Linked DNA regions of Homo sapiens: region 1 is linked to region 2. A link means that fine-mapping ties the variant in region 2 to the expression of a gene that starts in the linked region. Tissue or cell type: whole blood. Region 2 holds a variant in brackets; the other region holds the start of a gene. All regions are shown on one strand. Distances are from middle to middle.

The links. PIP is the estimated chance that this variant, and not a neighbour inherited with it, causes the effect.
Region 1: it holds the start of APBA1, and the variant in region 2 is fine-mapped to the expression of APBA1 in whole blood (TOPMed, PIP above 0.99).

The regions. Positions count from the first base shown.
Region 1 is chr9:69,668,748-69,676,855 of GRCh38, reverse strand. APBA1 (amyloid beta precursor protein binding family A member 1) reads left to right here and starts at 4,485. Exons shown (of 13, transcript NM_001163.4): 1 at 4,485-4,703. RefSeq lists silencers at 4,408-4,457, 4,638-4,717.
Region 2 is chr9:69,941,153-69,949,260 of GRCh38, reverse strand. No RefSeq gene overlaps it. Among named protein-coding and RNA genes, the nearest start is that of MAMDC2, 99 kb to the left of the region's middle. The variant A/C (reference allele first, on the strand shown) is at 3,551.

The DNA.
Region 1 (8,108 bases), 270 kb after region 2:
GTCATAATTGTGTATTTCTTTCATACACTTTAAATCCTGTGACCAAAAAGGCTATACAATATGTTAGGAATTATGCTGGATTATTAAATATTAGCAGAACTGAAATCCTCAAGAGAAACCAGATTACCGAAGGTTGTTCTATGCTTGTCTTACATACAACCTCAGCTCATAAACTCAAGGACTGATACAGAAAGAGGGTAATCACTAAAGAACTTGAAATCAAGGAAAAGTATCAACTTATGTCAGAAGAAGGATGTCTAATTTAAGCTATCCAGAACCATATCAAAAGCTGGAAGATATGGTCACACTCTTGCAGAGTTTGAATGGATGTAGTGAATCATGGAATCTTCAAGTCTTTGTTGATAAAAATAACCCTAAATGAATAAAAGTTTTTGAATCTCTGTCCTTTTACCAAGTGACCAACAGTGCTTGTGACGGTAACATATACAGATACTCCTTGACTTATGGTGGGGTTACATAAGTCAAAAATGCATTTAAGGCCAAGCACAGTGGCTCACGCCTGTAATCCCAGCACTTTGGGAGGCCAGGGCGGGTGGATCACTTGAAGTCAGGAGTTTGAGACCAGCCTGGCCAAAATGGTGAAACCCTGTCTCTACTAAAAATACAAAAATTAGCCGGGCATGGTGGTGGGCGCCTATAGTCCCAGCTACTAGGGAGGCTGAGGCAGGAGAATCGCTTGAACCCGGGAGGCAGAGGTTGCAGTGACCCAAGACTGCACCACTGTACTCCAGCCTGGGCAACAGAGTGAGGCACTGACAAAAAAAAAAATTAATACCCTGATAAGCCCAAAAGTAAGGTCAAAAACTTCTAAGTCGAACCATCATAAGACAGGAACCGTCTGTATTGGTATAGTGTAGGCTGATGGAGTTTGGGACCTCAGAGATTAAACTAAAGGAGATTATCTATGAGCCATTGGGAGACATACTTAAGTTTGCCAATAATATGAGGTTTTATACTGGCATGCACGGAGACTTTAGGTGCACATGCAGTGGTGGTTAAGGCTTTACTTTAAACCCAAGTCACTTGGCACAGTGTCTATACTATTGTTACCTGCTTCAATGGTTGGCAGGTTGCCAGTGTTTTATTTTTAGTGACATGGTCTTGCTCTATCACCCAGGCAGAAATGCTATGGCACAATTATAGCTTACTGCAGCCTCAACCTCCTGGATTAAAGCAATCCTCCCATCTCAGCCTCCCAAGTAGCTAGGACTGCAGGAATTCGCCACCATGCCCACTAATTTTTTTTTTTTTTTGAGAGACGGGGGTCTTACTATGTTGCCCAAGCTGGTCTTGAACTCCCCAGCAATCCTCCCACGTTGGCCTCCCAAAGTGCTGGGATTACAGGCATGAGCCACCATGCCTGGCTGCCAGTATTTTATATACTGCTTCCTGAAACACTTGAATAGCAGTTTCGACCCTGTTAACAGGAGAAGGTGGATTGGAGTGGTGGATTGGAGTGCCTTATAAGAGATCTACTAAAAAGAAAAACATCAATAAAGCAGGCACAGGAAATCTATAAATAGAATAGAACAAGACCAAAGGAGGGATTAAGACATGGATCTACATGCCATATGGATCCACTCATTTCCTACAATGATCTGAAAATTTGGCTTTGAGTTTCCTGCCAGCGAAGGCACAGAGTAACAAGAGCACTTAAGACAATGATTCATGCTATCCAGAAGAAATAGGAATATGTGTTTTTCATGGGGGTGGGGGAGGGAGGGAAATTTCCACATATGAACATTTGGTAAGTAATTAGTTTTGGAGGTCTCTAAGCTACCATTATAACTAACAATTATTACCTTTCTTTATATGGCACTGAATACTTTGCAGAGAAATTTCACATAACTTTCTTTACACAAAAATCCTGCGAGGTAAGATTCCAGGATATTATTAAAGCAATAATGTAACCCTTATTCATGCATCTAAGAACCTAGTCTAACTGGAAAGGCAACACAAAAAGTAGAAAATAAGCAGAAAGATCTCTGAGATAGCAAACCAAATGGCAATAAGTGTATGCACAGAAAAGAGCCTCTCACTCAGAACCTATATTCTCTTATTTAACCTGAAATTCTAACAGGGTTCATTTCCTTCCTAAAACTGCAGTGGATTAAAAGTAACAAAACAGAAACTATTACAGAGAAGCACTCTGAAAGCCTCCTAGATGCGTACACAGGAGAGCAGAGGCAAGAACTAAAAACAATCAAAAGAGCAGTTAGTGCAAAAACAGAAAACCCTAAACACTCACTAAGTAGGATAAGCTCAGACTCTCTCCGCCCTGGATCCTGACCCTCCACGAATCAGTTCCTCACAAACCACCTCAGCCATCTTTCAGGAACGGAAATGTGATCCTGCTTGCCTGCTCCCAACTCTTGGCAACCCTTCATTGACTTTCCAGGCTCATAAGACAAAATCATTATTTAAAAACGGTCCACAAAGTCTGCCTGCCTCTCCAGTCTCATCTCACTTCGGCCCCACCTGCTTGGGCCTTTTCACATTTCCTTCCCTTTACCTGGAAGTGTCTCAATGCTGCCTCTCCTGGGGGATCTGAAATGTCATTTCCTTAGAAAGCCTTACCTAGTCCCAGAGTCCACATTAGGTTTTCCCGTGCACCTTAGCGCCTTTGCAGTTGAGAATTTATCACAGTTGCACTTAGTCTGATTGTTTTATTTGTTTGTTTGTTTTTTGAGACACCAAGGCTGGAGTGCAGTAGCGCGATCTCGGCTCACTGCAACCTCCGCCTCCCGGTTCAAGCATTCTCGTGCCTCAGCTTCCCGAGTAGCTAGGATTACAGGCGTGCACCAACACGCCCGGCTAATTTTTGTGTTTTTAGTAGAGACAGGGTTTCGCCATGTTGACCAGGCTGATCTCAAACTTTTGGCCTAAAGTGATCTGCTGGACTCAGCCTCCCAAAGTGCTGGGATTACAGGCGTGAGCCACCGCGCCTGGCCAGTCTGATAGTTGAATACCTATTTCCTTCAGCGTACTGTGAGCTCTGGTGGAAAAGGACCATGTCTGGCTCGTACATATGCCAAATAAGTATTCACCGGAAAAAATATGAGTAATGTCACAGGACAAGCAGACATCTTCCTAGTATATAATTTTAAATTTTACTAAAATCTTTTTGAGAAGGTAGCTATTGTTTTATTAAAGCAAAAAAAAATTACAAAGTACAATGCAAAATTCATATGAATTTTAAAGCTAAAACAAGACTTTCAGAATGCTTTAGGCTACACCCCCAGACTTCTCTAGAGACGTGCTTAAAATAATATGGAAACACGGTGTGGTAAAAGATCCATTTCCCAAGGGATCTGGATAACCAGCGCTTATCTTCATTTTACTGGAGAATACATGTGCGGAGAGGGCTTTGCAAACTACAAGGCTTTGTGCATTATAACATTATTATGGAAAAATCTGTGTTTCTAAGAGGGGGAATGATTTAGCTATTGCATTGCCAATTACAGGTGGGGCTGGCGCCAGAGCCCAGGCCTCCCGGGGCCTGTCTAGCCCACAGCTTTTCATTAATGCACAGCACTTGCCACCTGGTCCCTGCCGCAAAGGGTGGCCTCTCGAGTTAGGAGCCATATCTAGGGCGGATGGCCTGTGCTAGGCTCAAAGACACTTAAGTTCCGATCAACCAGAACTGAGGAGCGGGTAGGAAAACCAAGCCGAGCCTTCCTCGGCTTCACAATCCGCAGGCTCTCCGCTGTCCCCGGCGGGACTCGGCAGTTCCCCTGGAGGGCTGCAGCCCGGCTGTCTTCGCTCAGGCCCAAGCCCGCGCGGCTCTCCCCCTGGCGGAGAACTCGCAGGACTGCGACGCATTCCGGAGACGCCGTCAATCTCCGAATTTGAAGCGCAGGCGATATCTAAGGGGCCTGGGAAGCGGGAAAGCTCGGGAGTCACTCCGGAGAGAACACCCTGCAGGAGTCGACGCGGCTGCCTGGCTTCGTGGTCCTGCAGCGTGGCCCGTTGCTTCGCGCAGAGGTTGGCCACAGCTGCTGGCTAGGAAACTGGGGACCACCTGGGTTGCCACCGAGGAGGGTGGAGGCCCCCGTCAGTCCCCTCGGGGATGCAGCTGCATTTTCCCCTCCTTGCGTCCGGCCGGGAGCCAGAGGATGGGGCTGTGGAACCCATTCCGAAAGGCAGGGCGGGCCCTTCGGAACCCGGACGCGAGGGAAGGCGAGAGGCGCGGGTGTGCCGCACGCCCACCGGCGCCGGGGCAGGGGCGCTGCAGCCGGCGGCCCACGGAGGACATCAGCGGTGCCGCCGCCGCCGCCGCGGGCTCGCGGGCCGCGCGCGCACGCGAGTGGGCGAGGGAGGCAGGGGCGCTACTAGCAGGCGGCGTGCGCGCGCGCGCTCCCCCGCGCCCTCCCTCGCAGGCCCGCCCGGCCCCAGCGCGCGTCACGAGGGGCCAGCGAGCTAGCTGGAGGGCGGGAGGGAGGGTGGGGAAAGGGGGTGGGGCCGCGAGACCGGAGGGGTCCGAGCAGCGGCTGCGGAGCCGGAGCTGGGCGAGGGCGGCTGCGGTCCCGGCGGCGGCGGCGGCGGCGGCAGCTGCGGCGGGAGAAGATGGTGGCGCTGGAGGCAGCAGCGGCTGGAGCGGAGCTTTATTCCCAGGCTTGGCACCAGCGCTGTCACTAGCGCCGCCTGCTCCCGCGGGCCCGCGGACCCAGCTGTCAGGCAAGGTACCACAGCCAGGGAGGGGTGGGTGAGAAGGGGTGCCCGGCGCTGATGCGGCCCCCGACGGAGCCCGGGTCCTCGCCAAAGGGCGCCCCCGGACGCGAGAGGGGCTGCCTGGAACAATAGTGCGGAGGAGCGGAGGCAGCAGGCGACATCCAGGAGGCAGTGCCTGGAACCATCAGCTAGCGAGGCGGGGGAAGGCGGCGTTGCGAGCGAGACGCCTGGGGTCCGGTGCCCGCTGAGATGCCGGGCTTCGGGCGCAGCAGGCGGGCCTGATGACAGTCATGGCAGGAGTGAGTGTGTGAGAGTGTGTGTGTAAAAGGTACAGCAGAGGGGATGGGGTGGCGGACGGAGGTGTTGGGGGGTGACATTTCCAGGAATCCCCGCTAGGACCCCCTCATCTCTCGGCTGACTCTCCTGGAGAAAGAATGTGATGATGGAAACGGTGAGGTGGGCAGGATGCACTTGGTGTGTGAAGTGTGGAGGGAGGCAGTGGGATAGGGGCCGGTTTGTAAAATCCTGTATATGTGTGTGTACGCGTGTGGTTGCATCCACGTTCCCCAAACTGCGCCCCAAATCCAGAGATCTGCCGCTGCCCTTACTTGATGTCACCGGCTAAGACTGTGGGACAGTGTTTGTTATTTTGACCCTGCAACTCTGAGCACAGTGTCTGTTCTGCTCCTGCGTGTGGATGGCCCAGTGTAGGGATTCTCGCTTCCCCTTCCTCTGGCCTCATGACATGGGGATGTGGAAGTGAGCATGTTGCTTTGAGGCACATGGCAGGGAAATAGGATAACCGTTACACATTCTGGGCTTGCTAATGTACCTGGTTTTGAAGGGGCCTTCCATCCTGTGATACTACTTCTCTCCTTAGCACCTGTTCCATAAGGGTCTTGTACTCCCTGACTGTGCAGTTTCTATTGTTTTTCTCTTGTCTGACCAGAAGGAGAAGGATGTTGAATGATCAGATTCCTCTTCCTGTCCCCACAACTTTCAATGCTAGCTAGACCTTCTCCTTCCACATTTAAGCACTGAAAACCTTATGGCTAGAGGATGGATGGTCTTTGTGTTGGTTCTTTTAGAATGAACTCTGGAGGTGTATACGTATAGAGAGATGCGGTGGGGCGGGGGGCGGTCTTTTAAAAAGAAGAAAAATATCACACGGAGAAATGTTTGGTGCCCACTTGGTCAGCATCACACAGCCAGGGCGTTTTCCTCAGGAAACAGGATACTTTATTTCTACTGCTGGTGACATCCACTCTCCCAGCTGTCACAATAGCTAGGTGGTGCCGTGTATCATTTGGAAACTGAAATCTCCTGAGACCCACAGCGATGGGGTCCCAGGTCAGTAAAGTCCCTGCTTTCCTACCTGATAGAGCCCACTAGTAGGGAATTTGGAAAAATGTCAGGCTGGCAACAACTCACCCAGTGGGAACAAGGACACAGAAATGCATCCAGAGTCTATGGCTGTTTAATTGTCTCTGCGTGGTAAAGATAGGTGTGTGTAGGTAGGGTTGGGTAGAGGTAGGCAGGGAGATGGCATATTCATGTGTATCCAGGGCAGTGTGATTCCCCCTCACCTATGTTTCTCCTGCGGTATTCATAGGAATGAGTGCACTTTACACTTAATATCTCGACACTTCTTTATTAAAATGTTGTATGACTAGCTTAATCTGCTTAGGACATGTTTTAGTCATAACACCTTAAATTCTACTGCATTGTCGGAATCCAAACTGGCTGCCCGGTTCTCTTCGAAAAGCCCGTAGCAGTCATGGCTACACAAGTAAATATACAACATGTTGGCACCAGAGATTTATTTTTCTTTTTTAAAATTTTTGTTTTGCTTTCTTTTATGGGCAAAGATTGCATGATATCGTTGTGAAAATAATAAAACTAGGGCTATCCACATATGCTTTTTTTTCTTCCCATGTATCTTATTTAATGATATATAGACAAGGTGCTCTTGAAGCTGTCTATGTAAAGTAAATTTCCCCATGTTCTTCAAGTCAAGCCTTCTAAGATTTTAATGTGAGGTTGGTTGTTGGCTGTCATCCAAGATTTAAGGATAGATTTATAAAAATGAATTTTGAATCTTAGTTCTTTACTCTCTTATTTGTTATGCCAAATGTCTTTCTGAGAAAAGTACTTAGGGAATTTAAAAGCCATTCTAAGAGATTTTGGTTTAAAAAAAAGTCATCATCCTTTATATTTGCAAGTAAGACCAGGGATGTAAATGTCTCACAAGAAAGTTTAATAATATGAGGAATTACCAGGTAAATACCCTGTTTAGAGAAAGAGGAATTACACAGCAGCAAAATCGATGACTCAGGAATCAGTTCTTTTCTAATGTAAATGTGATCATTTTTATTTTTATTTGTCTTTTTGAGACAGGATCTTCCTCTGTCGCCCAGGCTGGAGTGCAGTAGTGTGATCATAGCTCACTGCAGCCTCAAACTCCTAGCTCAAGCAATCCTCCTGCCTCAGCCTCCTGAGTAGCTGGGACAATAGGCACATGGCACCACACCCAGATATTTGTTTATTTTTTTCAGAGATAGAGTCTCGCTATGCTGCCCAGGCTGATAGTTTTAAAAATGCAATATCTGGCTTTTCTAAAGATCGGACTGGTATAAGGTTAATGAGACAGCTCTAATAAATGGTGGTACCTTTTGCTGTGGCCTGCAGCAAGCCATTTTTTGTGCATGGATGCCTTTCCTTCACTTAAAGTAGCATCAGTGCTTTTCTCTTCCATTATTGAGCCTCTTAAGGTTTTTTGTTGTTGTTGTTTTGTTTTGTTTTGTTGTTATTGTGTTTGTTTGTTTCGGAAGACTTAGGGGTAAGAGATATTTGAAAATTGACCTCTGGGGCCAAAAGGAATTAACTGTAGTACCTTGGGGAGATAGGACTTTTATCCTAGAAAGAAGAAGTAATTGTTGCTAAAATTGAGAGAATTTCAAGCCGTAAAATCTGAAGTTAACTCTCTGGGTTACAATAATTAATTTGCAAACATTTGTTAATTGCCTCCCGCATCTCAGATCCACTGTACCTTTGGATAGGGGACAGGGAATGTTGAGAAGGGTTGGAGGTTCAAAGAATGCTAAGTCTTAGATCCTGGCCAGAGGTGGATCATGATCTAGAAGGAGAAAAGAGGAAATATGTTACTAACTGTAAAAATAGTGAAAAATGATTAAGTGCTGAAAAAGCAGTATTCCTGCAGAGCTGTGGGAGTTCACAGGGTACAAAGTGACTTCTGATGGAAGAATTAGGGAAGGTTACATGGGATATAGCATTTGAGCTGTGATTAAGGTGGCATTTGGGTTGGCAGAGAAGGAAGGGCATGCTTGGGGGAGGAACAGTGTAGCACAGGCCTGGCAGTGGAAGGTGTATGCCTACACAGGAAACAAAAAAATGGT
Region 2 (8,108 bases):
ATGGCTCTCACCTGCTTCCTGGAATACTGTCCTCTTCCCATGCACCTTCAGGCCAAAGGATGCTGTATTAGTTTGCTAGAGCTGCCATAACAAAGTACCACAAACTAGCATTATAGAATTAAGAAGACTGAGATCAAGATGTCATCCGGGCTGGGTGCAGGGGCTCATGCCTGCAGTTCCAGCTACTTGGGAGGTTGAGGCAGGAGAATGGCTTGAGTGCAGGAGCTCAAGGCTGCAGTGAGCTATGATTGTACCATTGCACTCCAGTCTGGCCATGAGTGAGACCCTGTCTAAAAAAAAAAAAAAAAAAAAAAATTGTGGGAGGGAGCTGGCAGGTTGGTTCCTTCTGACAGCTGTGAGGGTGAATGTGTCCCATGCCACTCTCCTAGTGGCTTCCTGACAATCTTTTGTGTTCCTTGGCATACCAGACGCACCACCCTGATCTCTGCCTTTGTGTTCGCATGGCAGTATCCCTGTGTATGTGTATCTCTATGTATCCAAATTTTCCTTTTTTATAAGGACATCAGTCATATTGGATTAGTATCCACCCTATGATCTCATTTTAAAGTGATTACCTCTGTAAAAAGGATCTATCTCCAAATAAAGTCACATTCCAAGATATTGGGGCTTAGGACTCCAATATGTCTTTTTTGGGAGGACACAATTCAACCCATAAAGATGCTAACAGCATCCACTATTGCTAGTCCACTGGTGCTCCACCATTTCTTGCAGATTCTTAGGTTTTCCCACATATCTATACATAGTCCCTTCATTAAAATCCCTTAGGTAAAATTCTTTTAGTATTCCAGGTTTTCTCTGGGACTTTGATACATGCATTTTGAGAGCTATTTAATAAATGTCGTTGATAGGACTTAGTGATGGGTTGCATGGATGGTAAGTGAAGTGAGGGGAAGGGAGGTATCAAGTGTAATTTCCAGGTGTCTGTCTTGTGTCATTAGTGCAAGTAGTGCCTTTCACTGAGATCAGGCATGCAGAGAAGAACTGGATTGGGGAATGCAAAGGAGATAATGAGTTTTTGTCAGAACATATAAAGAATATATAGGTCAGGCATGATGGCTCACACCTATAATCCCAACACTTTGGGAGGCCAAGACAGGAGAATTGCTTGAGGCCAGGAGTCAGAGACCAGCCTGGGCAACATAGGGAGACTTTGTCTCTACAAAAAATTTTGAAAGGAAGACATTAGCTGGGCATGGTGGCATGAGCATCTAGTCCCAGCTACTCAGAAAGCTCAGGTGGGAGAACTGCTTGAACCCAGGAGGTCAAAGTAACAGTGAGCTACAATCATGACACTGCACTCTGGCCTGGGAAACAGAGTGAGACTGTGTCTCAAAGCAAATCAAAACAACAACAAAAAAGAATATACAATCATCCTTCGATATACATGAGGGATTCTTTTCAGGACCATTGCTACATTCTCAAGTCCCACAGTTGACCCCGCAGAACCCACATATAGGAAAAGTCAGCCCACTGTATACACAGGTTGCACATCCCTTGAATACTGTATTTTCAATCTGCAGTTGATGGAAAAAAATATAAGTGGACCTGCACAATTCAAACCCGTGTTGTTCAAGGAACAACTGTATAAGCCACACATGCACCAAAAAAAAAAAAATCTGTGCATTATAGTATTTATATACTCTAGACAGAGTCAGACAGCATGAATTTAAATCCTGGGGCTGCCAATTACTAGTTGAGCCACTTAGGACAAACGACTTAGATTTTCATTCCTTATTGTGTTCATTTTCATGTATAAAATGAACATTATAATACCTGCCTCATAGTGTTGCTGCGAGGCTTGATGGGCTGAACCACACAAAGCACTCAGCAAAGTGTCTGGAATTTACTACAGGAACAATAAATATTAGCTGTAGCCAAGATTACTTTTACATACCTACTTTCCATCTGGAGAAAATATCACCAACAATAAAGGTTTTGAAACTAGCTACCTAAATATGGTCTAATTCCTGTTTTCCACTGTAAATTTAAAATTCTTGTCAGTACAGTGCAGGATGGAAATAAGGTTGCTGGCAGGCTTGTACTTCTAAGACTTTCTCTTTTCTATTTGGTTTTGAACTCAGTAAGCCTATTTAAAACAGTTTCTAACCTTGATGCTGGAAATCAGTTGGAGATGTGGATAGATTTCAAAGCAATGTAGACATTTTGGGATGTCAAGGGGCTCTGGAAAATAATGTAGTCTGACCTCGAATTTTTGATGATGAAATTAAGACCCAAGAGGTTAAATGACTCATTTGAGGCCACACAAGCACAGGAAGAGCTGGGACTAAAATCCAGCCTCATGACACATACACTGGCCATTTCTTCTTCAGCATGACAGATTCTAGCATGACAGTGCAAAAAAATATTTATTGCACAGAATTTCAAATGTATATAATGAACTGAATCCCTCTGTAAAGATAAATACAAGATAGAATTAGGAATGAGAGACCGAAGCAAGAGTTCAAAAAATTAGTGTTGTTATAAATTTACTAAAATGATTTCTCAAAAAAAAGATGAATTATGATTTAACTAACATTTTAGACTTTTTAAAATGTATGTTTTTAGCAAGGAGTCTGACTACTTCACACATGGGAGTAGAATTTTCTTATATCCATGAACTATGAGCTGCCACTTTTTGAGTTTTCTTTTGAACACTTGACTTTTTTTTTCCTCTGCAACAGTCATTTACTTAATGCTGTACTCAAAATTATACATCCCAAAGAGATTCTATTTTGAAGACATCTGACTCAATGAACCAATGGAATGTTGAGGAGATGTTTATATGCCTTTTATAATTAACCCCATTTTTGTGGTTTGAGTTAAAAAGATTTAAACATCACACCTGGACAAATTATGTTGCAGTACTTGCATATAATTGTGTGAAACTAAATCAGTTTTCCGCTTAGCTAGAGGGAAAGACAGATATATGGTTTACTTTTCCATGTCATCTTTTCTGATGTAGGAAAGAGGAGACATAGGAAAAAGATAAACTGCAGGGCAAAATTGGAGGAAAAATTAAAATAACACTTCCCGATATTGAGAGAAAGGGATATAAATTTTTGTACTGAGAAAAGAAAGTATGCTTGGTAGATGTAACATTCAAGAGAAAAGCCAATCTAATAGAACTGGATTATGTTAAAAGGATTCTATTATCTCAAAGACTTGGTATCCATAGCAACTGAAACATTGCTATACTTACTCTTTCCATCCACCACGAGGGAAATAAACAGCCAAAGAGCTAGCTATTTCCTGATACCATTATATCACAGCTAATAAATTACCATCTGCAATGTCTTCACAAACCCTACTGTTGTTTTACTTTTAAAGCAGAACCAAAAAAAAAAAAAAAAGATGAAGAAATAAGAGAATGTAACCAAAACACAAAAATGAACAACCAGCCCACAAGGGAGGGTTGCAACAGTGCATCCAAGGAAGGAAGGAGAGAGTTACTCTCTGAACTTCCCTCAAGGCTGGCTGATGTCTAAGATAGAGAAGCAGTTTCCTGGGCTGCTGCCAAGCTACAAGTCAC[A/C]TACAAAGTCCATGTAGACTTTGTTGCTCTGAAAGGGAGTCCAGATCTAAGTGGGCCAACCTCAGACCCAGGCCCAGATATATACTAAACAGGATGCCCAATCAGTTGCAAATGTGTGCTGTGTGTGTATGTATGTGAGTGGTATTACTAAATCATAACTTTTTCTTTATTCATAAAAAAATGTGCCATATATGTACCAATCACTGTGTAAGGTTCTGAGGATGTTAGATGTGAATGAGACACTCTTAGCTGACAAAAGAGTTCATATCTTGCATAGAATCTAGATGCATCAAGTTTCCAATTGACAGACCTAAAGGTCCATCAACATCACCTATGACAGGCGCATCATTATATGATACCTTTAGGACCCAGTACAGACCCAGTACAGTTTCTTGTAAACAACTGACACATAATAAATGTTGATTACATGTAAGATTTCAAGGGAATTATAAAGATGAAGTTAACACACAACATCGAAAGTGTCTGTAGCAAGGAGGTCTTCAAAACACAGAGCCTTAAATTGTAGTTGAATGAAATGAATGTAATTTTAAAATTGATATAAACATAATTAAAGTTGTCAGAAATAATAAGTAGTAAATCTGGCATTTGAATCCATACAGTCTGGCTCTGGAGATTTTCGTGCTTAACCACTACATTTCTCCTCCTCTTAGAGAGCAAAGCCGAATGGGAAGGGGGACAGATGTTAAATTCTTTCTATAGCTACAGTGATTTTTTTTTAAGGAAAACCAATCCAAAAGTACAAACTGTAAATCTTTAGAAGCCAAACATACAGTTTGAACTGCATCTATTCATTCATTCATTTATTCAACAAATATTCATTGTGCTTCTCTGGACCAGTGCTCCTCTGGGTACCAGGGTTGGCACAGATAAAAACACAGTAAGCCAATATTCTCATGGTCTATTTTCTCCATAAAACTAGCCACTTTCAAACACACATTACAATCTATTTATTTATTATGTTTATTGATTGTTGTCTGTTTTCCCTTAACAGAATGCATCTTCCATGAGGATATACAATTTTGTGTTTTGGTCTCTAAGGTACCCCAAGCACATAGAACAGTGCTTGGAGCACTTCAGGGTTTTGATAAACATTTGTTGAATAAATGAATCATGGAGCTTACTTTTTATTGGAGGACAACATAAGTTTTTAAAATGAAATAATATCCAGGAATATATGCAGGGTAAAATCATAAATTTTCTATGCCTTCTTTCTCTAAATACAACAGTGATAATTCTTAATTACCACTGGACCTTACAAGGACACTATAAGTTTTAAGCAGGATGTGCAAATGCTTTGGAACCCTGGGAAGACTGTGGACACTTAAATAAATATAAGAAAGCTTTATAATCTCTGTTTCTGAATTTCTTCTATTTCAATATATTAAGGAGGTAAATCTGCATGTATATTTATCATTTTCAGTGTGACTTCAGCATTTCAATAAAGGTCACAGGTAACCCAGTGATGAAGCATCCTTCCCTCACTGCCTCTGAAAAGCCCACACTGGCCAATATTTTCCTAGGTTTTAGTACCGCATTATTTTACATATTTTATTCATCTGTTTCTCTTCCCTTTCTCATCAACCCTTTCATTTATGTTTAAACAACTCTATTTAGATATAACTCACAAACCATACAATTCACTCATTTAAAGTCTACACTTCAATGGTTTTTAGTATATTCACAGATATGTGCGACCTTCACCACAGTCAATTTTATGACATTTTTATCACATCAACAAGAAACTCCAAATGGTTACAGTCTCTAGATACCACCCTCATATCCACCCATTCCCTCTTCAGCCTTAAGCAAACACTAATCCAATTTCTGTTTCCATAGATTTCTGTATTCTGGGCTTTCATATGAATGGAATCAACTGACGTGGTCTTTTGTAAGTGGCTTCTTTCACTTGGCATGTTTTCAAGGTTTATCCAAATTATAGCAGGTGTTAGTACTCCATTGTATTGGCTGAAATAATATTCCATTGTATGAATATACCACATTTTGTTTATTCATTTACTGATAGACATTTGAGTTATTTCCACCTCTGGGCTATTATGAATAATGCTGCTATGCACATTTGTGTTTAAGTTTTTGCATGGACATATGTTTTCTTTTCTCTTATATACCTAGGATTAGAATTGCTGGGGCATATGGTAACTCTATGTTTAATTATGTCAGGAACTGCCAGACTGTTTTCCACAGCAGTGGAACCATGTTACATTCCCACTGGTGGTATATGAGGGTTCCAATTTCTCTACATCTTCAGCAACATTTGTTGTCATTATTTAACTTTTTTATTCTAGCCATCCCAGTCAGTGTGAAGTAATATCTCGTTCTGGTTTTAATTTGCATTTCCCTGATGACTAACGATGTAAATCATCTTTTCATGTGCTTACTGGCCATCTGAATATGGTTCTAGAGAAAAGTCTATTAAGACCCTTTGCCCATTTTCTAATCGGGTTATTTTACTTTTACATTGAGTCATAAAGGTTCTTTACATTCTAGATACAGATTCCTTATCAGATGTATGATTTGCAAATATTTTCTCCCATTCTGTGAGTTGTCTTTCACTTTCCTGACAGTGTCCTGCAATGCATAAAATTTTTTAATTTTGATAAAGTCCAATTAATTTATTTTTTCTTTTGTTGTCCTTGGTTTTGGTGCCATATATAAGAATGCTATGTCAAATTCAAGGTCATGAAGATATACTATGTTTTCTTCTAACGATTTTATCATTTTAGCTCTTATATCTAGGTCTTTGATCTATTTTGAGCTGTTTTTTTTTTTATGGCGTTAGGTGAGAGTCCGACTCTATTCCTTCATCTGCAGTTATCCAGTTGTACCAGCACTATTTGTTGAGAAGATTCTTATCTTCCCATTGAAAGGTCATGGCACCCTTGTCATAAATCAGTTGACCATAAGTGTATGCATCTATTTCTGGACTCTCCATTCTATTCTATTGGTCCATATATCTATTGTTTTGCCAGTCTTCATTACCATTGCTTTGTGGTATGTTTTGAGGTTGGGAAGTGTGAGTCCTCCTATTTTATTCTTTTTCAGGATTTTTCTGGCTATGTTTGTTTCCTTGCAATTATACATGAATTTTACAATCAGCTTGTCAATTTCTACAAAAAAAAAAATCCACAGGGCTTCTGATAGGAGTAGTGTTGAATCTGTAGACCAGTTTGTGGAATATTGCCATCTTAACAATATTAAGTTTTCTGATGCATGAATATGGGTTGATTCCCATCTATCTATCTATATAGTTTCCAGGGTATAAATACCACACTTCTTTTGTTAAATTTGTTCCTAAGTATTTTAATATTTTATTCTTTTTAATGCATGGGATTGTTTTCTTTTCCTTTTTTTTTTTCTTTAGAGACAGGGTCTCACTTTGTTGCCCAGGCTGGTCTCGAACTCCTGGGCTCAAGCAATCCTCCTGCCTCAGCCTCCCAAAGTGCTGAGATTACAGGCATGAGCCACCAGACCCAGCCAGTATTGTTTTCTTAGTTTCCATTTGGATCATTCATTGCATGTGTATAAAAATACAACTAATTTGTATCCTGCAAATTTGGTGAACTTGTTCATTAGTTCTAATCATTTTGGGTGGATTTCTTAAGATTTTCTACATACAAGACTATGTTATCTACTAATAGAAATAGTTTTACTTCTTCCTTTCCAATCTGAATGTCCTTTATTTCATTTTCTTGCCTAATTGCCCTGGCTAGAACCTCCAATACAATATTAAATAGAAGTGGTAAGAGTTGACGTTCTCTTGTTCCTGATCTTGGGGAGAAAGTTGCCACTCTTTTATCATTAAGTATAATGTTAGCTATATAATAATGTCAGGTTTTGTAGATGCCCTTCATCAGGTTGAAAAAAATTTCTTCTATTTCTCATTGTTGATAGTTTTTAAATCATGGAATGCTGTTAAATTTTGTCAAATATTCTTTCTGTATTAATTGAGATGATTGTGTGTTTTTTTGTTTTTATTCTATTAATACGTTGTATTACACTACTGTACCAATCTTGCATTCTTGGAATAAATCTCACTTGGTCACGTGTATAATTTATTTTATAAGTTTCTGAATTCTTTTAGTTAATATTTTGTTGAGAACTTTTGCGTCTATATTCATAAGAAATTGGTCTATAGTTTTCTTGGGATGTCTTTTTCTGGTTTGGATATCAGAGCAATACAGGGAACATAAAACAAGGTGGGAAATGTTTCCTCATCTATTTTCTTGAAGAGTTTTGGAGAATTGACATTAATTCTTCTTTAAATCTTAAATGTCTGGTAGAATTGAGCAGTGATGCCATCTGGGTCTGGGCTTTTCTTTGTGGTTTTTTGTTTTTGTTTTTGTTTTTGTTTTCCAAAACTCAATCTCTTCATTCATTATATGTCTATTCAAGCATCTATTTATTTTTGAGTTATTTTCAATAGTTTGAGTCTCTTTAGGAACTTGTCCATTTCATCTCACCTATTTAATTTTTAGGCTTACAATTATTTATGATATTTATTTACAAACCTTTTCATCTC